2 linked regions of the Homo sapiens genome follow. The protein of the gene in region 2 interacts with the protein of the main gene of each other region in a biochemical or structural test. Each region holds a gene or a part of one and is shown on either strand. Other genes may lie near its edges.

The links.
Region 1: of the proteins of MXRA7 (region 2) and FAM20C, one has a biochemical effect on the other in vitro, tested with the Homo sapiens proteins (one large-scale study listed by IntAct).

What each region holds. Positions count from the first base shown.
Region 1 is NC_000007.14:254,983-258,634, reverse strand, and holds part of FAM20C (extracellular serine/threonine protein kinase FAM20C precursor), read right to left. Parts: intron 2,787-3,652; coding exon 2,606-2,786; intron 1,982-2,605; coding exon 1,872-1,981; intron 1,631-1,871; coding exon 1,549-1,630; intron 1-1,548. UniProt on the Homo sapiens protein: Golgi serine/threonine protein kinase that phosphorylates secretory pathway proteins within Ser-x-Glu/pSer motifs and plays a key role in biomineralization of bones and teeth.
Region 2 is NC_000017.11:76,679,860-76,683,511, reverse strand, and holds part of MXRA7 (matrix-remodeling-associated protein 7), read left to right. Parts: intron 1-2,632; coding exon 2,633-2,645; 3' UTR 2,646-3,652.

The sequences.
Region 1 (3,652 bases), on a different chromosome or scaffold from region 2:
AAAGCAGAATTGTCAAGGGCCCCTGTACAAGGTTCCTAACAGGCTGCTGGGCTGGGAGCTGGGCCATGGGTCCACCTGCCTGTACCCGACACCCCAGGCAGTGGGTCCACCCAGCCCATCTCCAGCACCCCGGGCAGTGGGTCCATCCCACCCATCTCCAGCACCCCAGGCAGTGGGTCCATCCCACCCATCTCCAGCACCCCAGGCAGTGGGTCCACCCCACCCATCTCCAGCATCCCGGGCAGTGGGTCCACCCTGCCCATCTCCAGCACCTCAGGCAGTGGGTCCACCCTGCCCATCTCCAGCACCCCGGGCAGTGGGTCCATCCCACCCATCTCCAGCACCCCAGGCAGTGGGTCCACCCTGCCTATCTCCAGCACCTCAGGCAGTGGGTCCACCCCACCCATCTCCAGCACCCCAGTCAGTGGGTCCACCCTGCCTATCTCCAGCACCTCAGGCAGTGGGTCCACCCTGCCTATCTCCAGCACCCCAGTCAGTGGGTCCACCCCGCCTATCTCCAACACCCCGGGCAGTGGGTCCACCCAGCCCCATCTCCAGCACCCCAGGCAGTGGGTCCACACTGCCTATCTCCAGCACCCGGGCAGTGGGTCCACCCAGCCCCATCTCCAGCACCCCAGGCAGTGGGTCCACACTGCCTATCTCCAGCACCTCAGGCAGTGGGTCCACCCCGGGCATCTCCAGCACCCCAGGCAGTGTGTCCACCCAGCCCATCTCCAGCATCCTGGGCAGTGGGTCCACCCAGCCCCATCTCCAGCACCCCAGGCAGTGGGTCCACCCTGCCCATCTCCAGCACCCCGGGCAGTGGGTCCACCCAGCCCATCTCCAGCACCCCGGGCAGTGGGTCCACCCTGCCCATCTCCAGCACCCCAGGCAGTGGGTCCACCCCGCCTGTCCCCAGCCCTGTATGTGGGGTCCTGGCCTCTGGCCTGGGGAAGGGTCCTGGGCAGCCGAGTTGAGATGGCTCCAGGGAGCGTCAGCCCACAGTTTAGCTATTGAAGTGCCCAAAGTCCATCTCTCTGAGGCCTCCGAGCCTGGGAATGGACGTCCTCCTGCCCGAGTTACTCGCCTCCATGCTTTGCTTATTAGGGGTCACCCTCCCTGGTAACCAGGGTCTCACAGCGCCGCCCAAGACCCCCCGTGGCAGGCCAGCAGCGGCCGCAGAGGCCGCCTATCCCCCGCTGGCTGGCTCCAGGTACCGCGTGCAGGCAGAGGCCCATCTATTCTGCACGGTCCTGCTCTTCCTACCAGCAGCCTCTCCTGGCCTCCGTTTCCCAGGTAACACCAGCTCTGCCGGGACTTGGTCTGCAGCATTCCTGTGCCTCGGAGGTCCCACTCCCGGGGCGGCCCTCCCTCCTGGTTGGGGCCTGGGGCCGCCCTCTGCATCTGGCTCTGAGATGGGCCTTTGCGACATTCCCATCCCTCCACTGGAGGGTCTGCTCCCCCCGTCCCCAGGGTCTCAGGTGGGCTGCAGGTAGCTGGGAGGTGGCCGGCCCTTCCCTGGGTGTGCAGGGGCGAGGACAGGCTCACCCTCTTCCATTGTCTAAGTGGATGATGAACGTTTCATTCCCAAACTTCTCAAAAGTCTCGTAGTGGTGACGGTCCATGTTTCCTGCGGAGAGAGGCAGAAAGTGTCACAGCTCGTGGGGAGCCGGGCCACGTAGCTCAGAGGCCTCTGTGCTCTGCAGAGCGGCGTCTCCTCCTGCCAGCGTGACCTCTAAGCAATCTGGCCCCTTCACAGGCCACAGGACCGCAGCCGGGCCGTGCCACGGAGTGTGCCCTGCAGAGCCCTGCGTGCATCCGCTCCACGCAAGGCGAGTGACACGGGGACCCCGTGCCCCTGCGGGACGTACCCATGAGGAAGTCGAAGATCGTCATGTCCATGACGTCCAGGATGCGGTGGCTGCTGTCGTAGGGCGGTGTCTGCTTCACCTCCTCGCAGTAGTCAGGGTCCACCTCCCACCTGCGGGGAGCCAGCGTGAGACGGGGGGCCCAGGCCAGATTCTGGGGAGCCCGGCGCGTGCCATGAGGAGCAGAAGAGAAACACTGCGGCAGGGACCTTGGCGTCTGCAGATGGACCCGCCCGGGCTGCGGCGCTGAGGCTGCATTAGCGGGAGCACGGGTGTGGGAGGGGACGGAGCCGCTCTGCCCTGCCTCGGGGTGACCCCACCTGGAGCTGCCTTCACCTCTGGGCCCCGTGTTTTTTGCAGAGTCTCTGTGGGGAAACAGGACCTGGACTACACACTCACGAGGACAACGTGGGGCGGAAAGAACAGGGGCCGTTTCTCCCGCAGGAGTGAGGAGAGGGACGGGGCGAGAGCAGAGCTCAAACGCTGAGAGGCCCCGATTCGAGGGACCTGGTGGGCAGGCCGGCCCGGGTCAGGGAAGCACATGGAAATACTGGAGTAAGGACGCCCTCTGCCACCGTCTCATCAGGAAGCGGTCATCTCACACAGGCCAGCATCGCACAGCAGGCTCTGCACCCATCTCTGCCACCCCCGTGGGCGCCGACCCTCCCATGCCCGCCCAGGCCCAGCTCCCTCTGCCGTAGGGTGGCCGGACGCCAGCCCCCCGGCCCCGCACTCACTCGGCCTTCTTGCGCTTGTGGTAGGAACGCCGCCAAGGGTTCCGCCAGGTCTTCCTCTTGGCCAGGGACAGGTCGGGCAGGAAGGCCGCCAGCGAGCCCTCGATCTGGTCTGGCTTCCCGCACAGGGCGTGCTCCGTGGAGCAGTAGTAGGAACACTCGCCGTAGAAGCAGATGTTGTTGGCTGGGGAGGGACAGGCTGCGGGTTACCAGGGCCGCACAGGGCTGCGTCCTCACCTGTGGTCTCACGGCCCCCAAGGCCGGGCCGGGCTCTGCCTGGTGCTTCTCATGGGCAGGACTCACCCACAGTTCCCCATCAATCCCAGCAAACACCTCCACCCCACGGTACAGAAAAATGAACCCACAGAGCTGACGTCCCGAGGCCACACAGCTCCCCAGAGGCAGAGCCCGGCCTGAACCCTCGAAAATCAGGGGCTGGTCTATGGAAACCCTAGGGCCAACATTTAGTCTTTTAAAAAATGCATTCATATTGTCAAGAAAGTGAAGATACAATCCACAGAATGGTAGAAAACGTTTGCAAACCGCACATCTGAGGATCTAGCATTTAGAGTGTATGAAGAACTCTCATCACTCAATCACAAAAAGACAAAAAAAACTAATAAATGGGCAGAGGGCTTGAACAGCTGATTCTCCAAAGACGACCCTGATGGCCGACAAGCATGAGAAGAGACGGGCGCCATCGTGAGTCACCGGGGAGATGCAAATCAAAGCCACGGTGAGGCACCATCTCCTGTCTGCTGGGATGGCTTCCATCAAAAGAGCAGCTGCCGGCTGGGACGGGGGAACCGCCACCTCTGTGCGCTGCTGGCGGGGGGTGCACACGGCACAGCCACGGCGGAAACGGTCTGCAGCCCCCAACTGATTAAACACAGTGTTTCCACGTGACCCAGGAACTCCCCTCCCATGTAAACCCCTAAGAGAAGAGAAAACATTTCTATACAAAAACTCAGACACGAATGCTCACAGCAGCACCGCTCACCACAGCCGAAAAAGAGAGAATCCACCCAAATGTCCATCAAGAGAGGAGTG
Region 2 (3,652 bases):
CCCTGCAGCCTTGGGTCTCACCCTGAGAAGATGAGGCAGCTTCTGCACAGTGCACAGCAGATACTCTGAGAACGGTCCGTGCTCCCAAGCTGTGAGACAGGCAGGTTCTTAGGATCAGGGCAAGGGTTAGCAGACAACGGCCGGGCCACATCTGATCCCCCACCTGCCTGTGCCAATCCAGCGTGGCAGTAGTAGCAACACTCACCCATTTTCCTGTGGTCTGTGCCTCTTTGTGCCGCAGTGGCCGAGGTGAGTCACTGCAGCAGAGACCACACAGCCCCCCAAATCTAAGTAGTATCTGGCTGTTTGCAGAAAAAGGTTGCAGTCCCTGGACAGAGGCTAGAGGGGGCTGGACACAACTGCCAGCCCTTGAAGGTCCCTGGGGACAGAGGCTGCTCAGGCAGATGGATCTGGAGGGCCTCTTAGAACAAGAAAGACCAGGCCTCCGGCTGGGGGTGAAACTGCCACTGCCACCCACGTCCAGAGCTGGGACCTTGGCAGTGGGGAGGGAAAATCCCTTCCCCTTATTTTCAGAGAGTAGACCCTCTGCTGCCCATCCTTCCCCCACTGGATCTTTGGAGGTCTCTAGACCACCAACCCACACTTGGCTGTTCTGTGGGACCGAGACTGTGCCCGAGGTGCTGCTCCTGGGACGAGGGAAGACTCCTCGACTCCTCTGCATGCTGCAGTTACCACTTTGTGCCCTGAATTGAGAAGGAGGGGCCGGAGGACTTCTTGGGGCAGGACTGGAGTTCACGTTCATTCCCATCACTGCCCAGCCCGCATGCTCCCTGTGGCTCCTAGGCATGCCGGTGGCATCTGCTTGCTCCCCCACACCTCTGCCCCCCTGCATGTGGTTGCCCCTCGCAGCACTGCGTGGGGTCTCCGCGGCTCCACATCACGCTGTCCTCACACGGTGATGCTTGGGGTTGCAGAGGCTGGTCAGTTTGGCTTTGGCTCTTCATCTTCAGCACGATGGTTCTCATGGGGGTGGGGAGCGCTGGCAGCTGTGAGACAGTTCTGGTCCCAGCCAAGTCCAGGGAACCGCCCTAGAATCATCAGTATGAAAAATAACATGCCTGTTGTTATCAAACCACTAAAACCACAGGCCAGCTAGCAGGGTGCTCTCTCTCCGCCTGTCAGGTTCCACCCTCCCGGCCTCCATGCCTCTGATGCCTTTCCCAGCTCTCAGGGTCCAGTCGAGTTGCAGCTACAAGCTGCACGTCCCCTAACTTTAAATTTACTAGCTCAGCCAACAGATCTGCATCTAGAACCTGAAGCTTTAGTGGTTGCCAGTTCCAGCACTCCCCAGGAGCTTCAGTTCACAGGCTCTCATGACAATTAGGAAGTGGGACTGGAAGCAGAAGGCCCCCAATTAGTTCCCCGACATGCTGAAGTGGTCAGTCTCATCCTTGAACTACTCACAGATCAAATTCCTTCCGCCTGGGGCCAGAAAGCGGTCAGGTCTGTAAATCCAGAGGCAGCTGCTGCTTAAGATCCTGCTTGCCACTGTCTGCCCGCCTCCTCAGCTCTCCCCTCGGGCCGGAGTTTCACACACTTCATGCCTCTGGTGGCGTCCCTGGGTTCCGCTGAAGCTGCTGTGGGAAGTGCCACCTCCAGTTTCACAGTGTGGCTAGGACAGTGGGCTTGCAGGCTGGTGACAGCTCCCCTGAGCAAGAGGCCTCCTCCTCCTCCCCCAGAGCTAGGGAAGCTGGCAGGGCTTGGCTGGCTTCACAGCTTGGCAGGAGAAAGAACAGGCGCGGCTGTCAGCTCCTCTCCATCACTTCTTCCCACCTTGTGGTCTCAGAGGGAAAATGAACCCAGGCTATAGACTGGGCTGGCTCTGATAGATCAGGACCCACCCCTCCATTTGAGGTCTGCAGGGCTGTCTTGACTCCTCTGGAAATGGACATGACTCTAGAGGAAGGTGCTAGTGTGGTAAAACAGGGAAGGGGAGGAGGAGGCCAAGGAACCCCAGCTGTGGGGTAGTTCTGGTTCTTCCATCTGATGTATGCAAGAAACTACAGACAATAGACCTGCCAGTGTGAATTTCCAGCTCAGGCTGGAAATGCGTGCTGACTGTGACCACCAGGAGAGGGCGTCAGAGGGACAAGATCAGACCTGCTGGGTTCTCAGTGGTCCCAGGGCTGGCAGTGTGTCTTGGTTCATAAAAGACGGGCATGCAGTTGGCTCCATCTGGAAGCGTGCATCCTAGGGTGCCAGTATCCCCCGAGGGGACAAAACTCAGCCAGCGGGAATGGGAAATTATCTAGGGTGATAGGAATATTGTCAGCACAACCACACAACCCAAGATCAGAAAGGCCCTTGGCAACTCAAATGCCCAAGTTCCTTCCTTAAGTACCCTGCAGAGGCTGAACAGGGTCTGTGGGCTGCCAGGTTCTGTGCGGGATCAAGGGGAGCTCTGCAAGCTCTGGCCGGCTTGGCGGCACAGACTGTCTTGCTGCAAGCGATGAGAAGCAAATCAGCAGTGGTTTGAGAAACCAGAGTCTAGCGCAGCTTCTGCAATTCCAAACATTCTCCTTCCTCGTCCCCATTTCCCCCTTTCCTTGCCCATGGTGCAGGATGGAATGAGTAAAATAAATTATCTTTTTCTCCCCATTTCTCTTTACAGAACTGAAGAATAACGAAGTTATCCTTAGCGTCCTCCTAAAGGCTTTTCCTTTTGGCATCTTAAAAGCTTGAGAGATAAAACGGAAACCCCAGAGAGGAGTCTGGGCAGGCTCCCAGGGTGCATGCTGCCTCCATAAATCTGCTGAGCTCTAGACCCTCAATCAGGACTTGTCCCTTGGCTAGCAGGATCCTGGGAACACCTTTGGCCCTGCCCTGTGTAGAGATGTTCATGTCTGTTCCTGTGGGTCACTTTGTTAAGCTGAAGAGTTTTAAGAGGTAGAGCTCAGACCCTGGACTGGGATTTTTCTTACCACTCAAACTTGCTATCCACACACCCTGCACACCTTAGATAAAAAGAACATTTTAAAAGCAGAGTTCACTTTCACTCCAGTCTCCCCTCTTTTGCCCTCACTGAAGCCAAACCACAGAAGACTTTGAGGAATGAGAGACAAATGAGGTAGAGCTCACCTGTGCTCACCAGCTCCGTCAGGGTGGTCAGCCGACCCCTTTCCCTGGGAACCCCACTTCTCTCTGTGGCTGGCTTGGTTGTCGGGGGTGAGATGCCATATTGATTACAGGGCAGCAAAGAACCAGTACCAGGAATTTACTTGACCATTCCCCTTATTTTTCATCTAGAGGAATCTCGGATTCAGCCCTTTCATTGCTAAGACACCTTTTCACTGAGGTTCTTACCAGCTCAGCCAAATCTCCACTCTGCTATAGCAGAAGCAATAATGTTTGCTTTAAAAAGATTTCTTGACCTATGCCTTTTCTTAGAAAGTTTGATAGATTAGTTAGAACTTCAGATCATCAGATCAGTCTCAAATGGGTTTCTTGGAATTTTATATTTGACAATATTTATACTATACCAAACTCATTTGCAGTTCTTAGGTTTGTTGGTTAAAACATTTTTTTAAAGCAGTAAGTTTATAGAAAATGTTTTCATTTAATGGAAGGCTGGGGAATGTCCAGCATCAACCCCTATGGCATGCATTCCCAGGGGCCTTCTCATCTGGGCCTG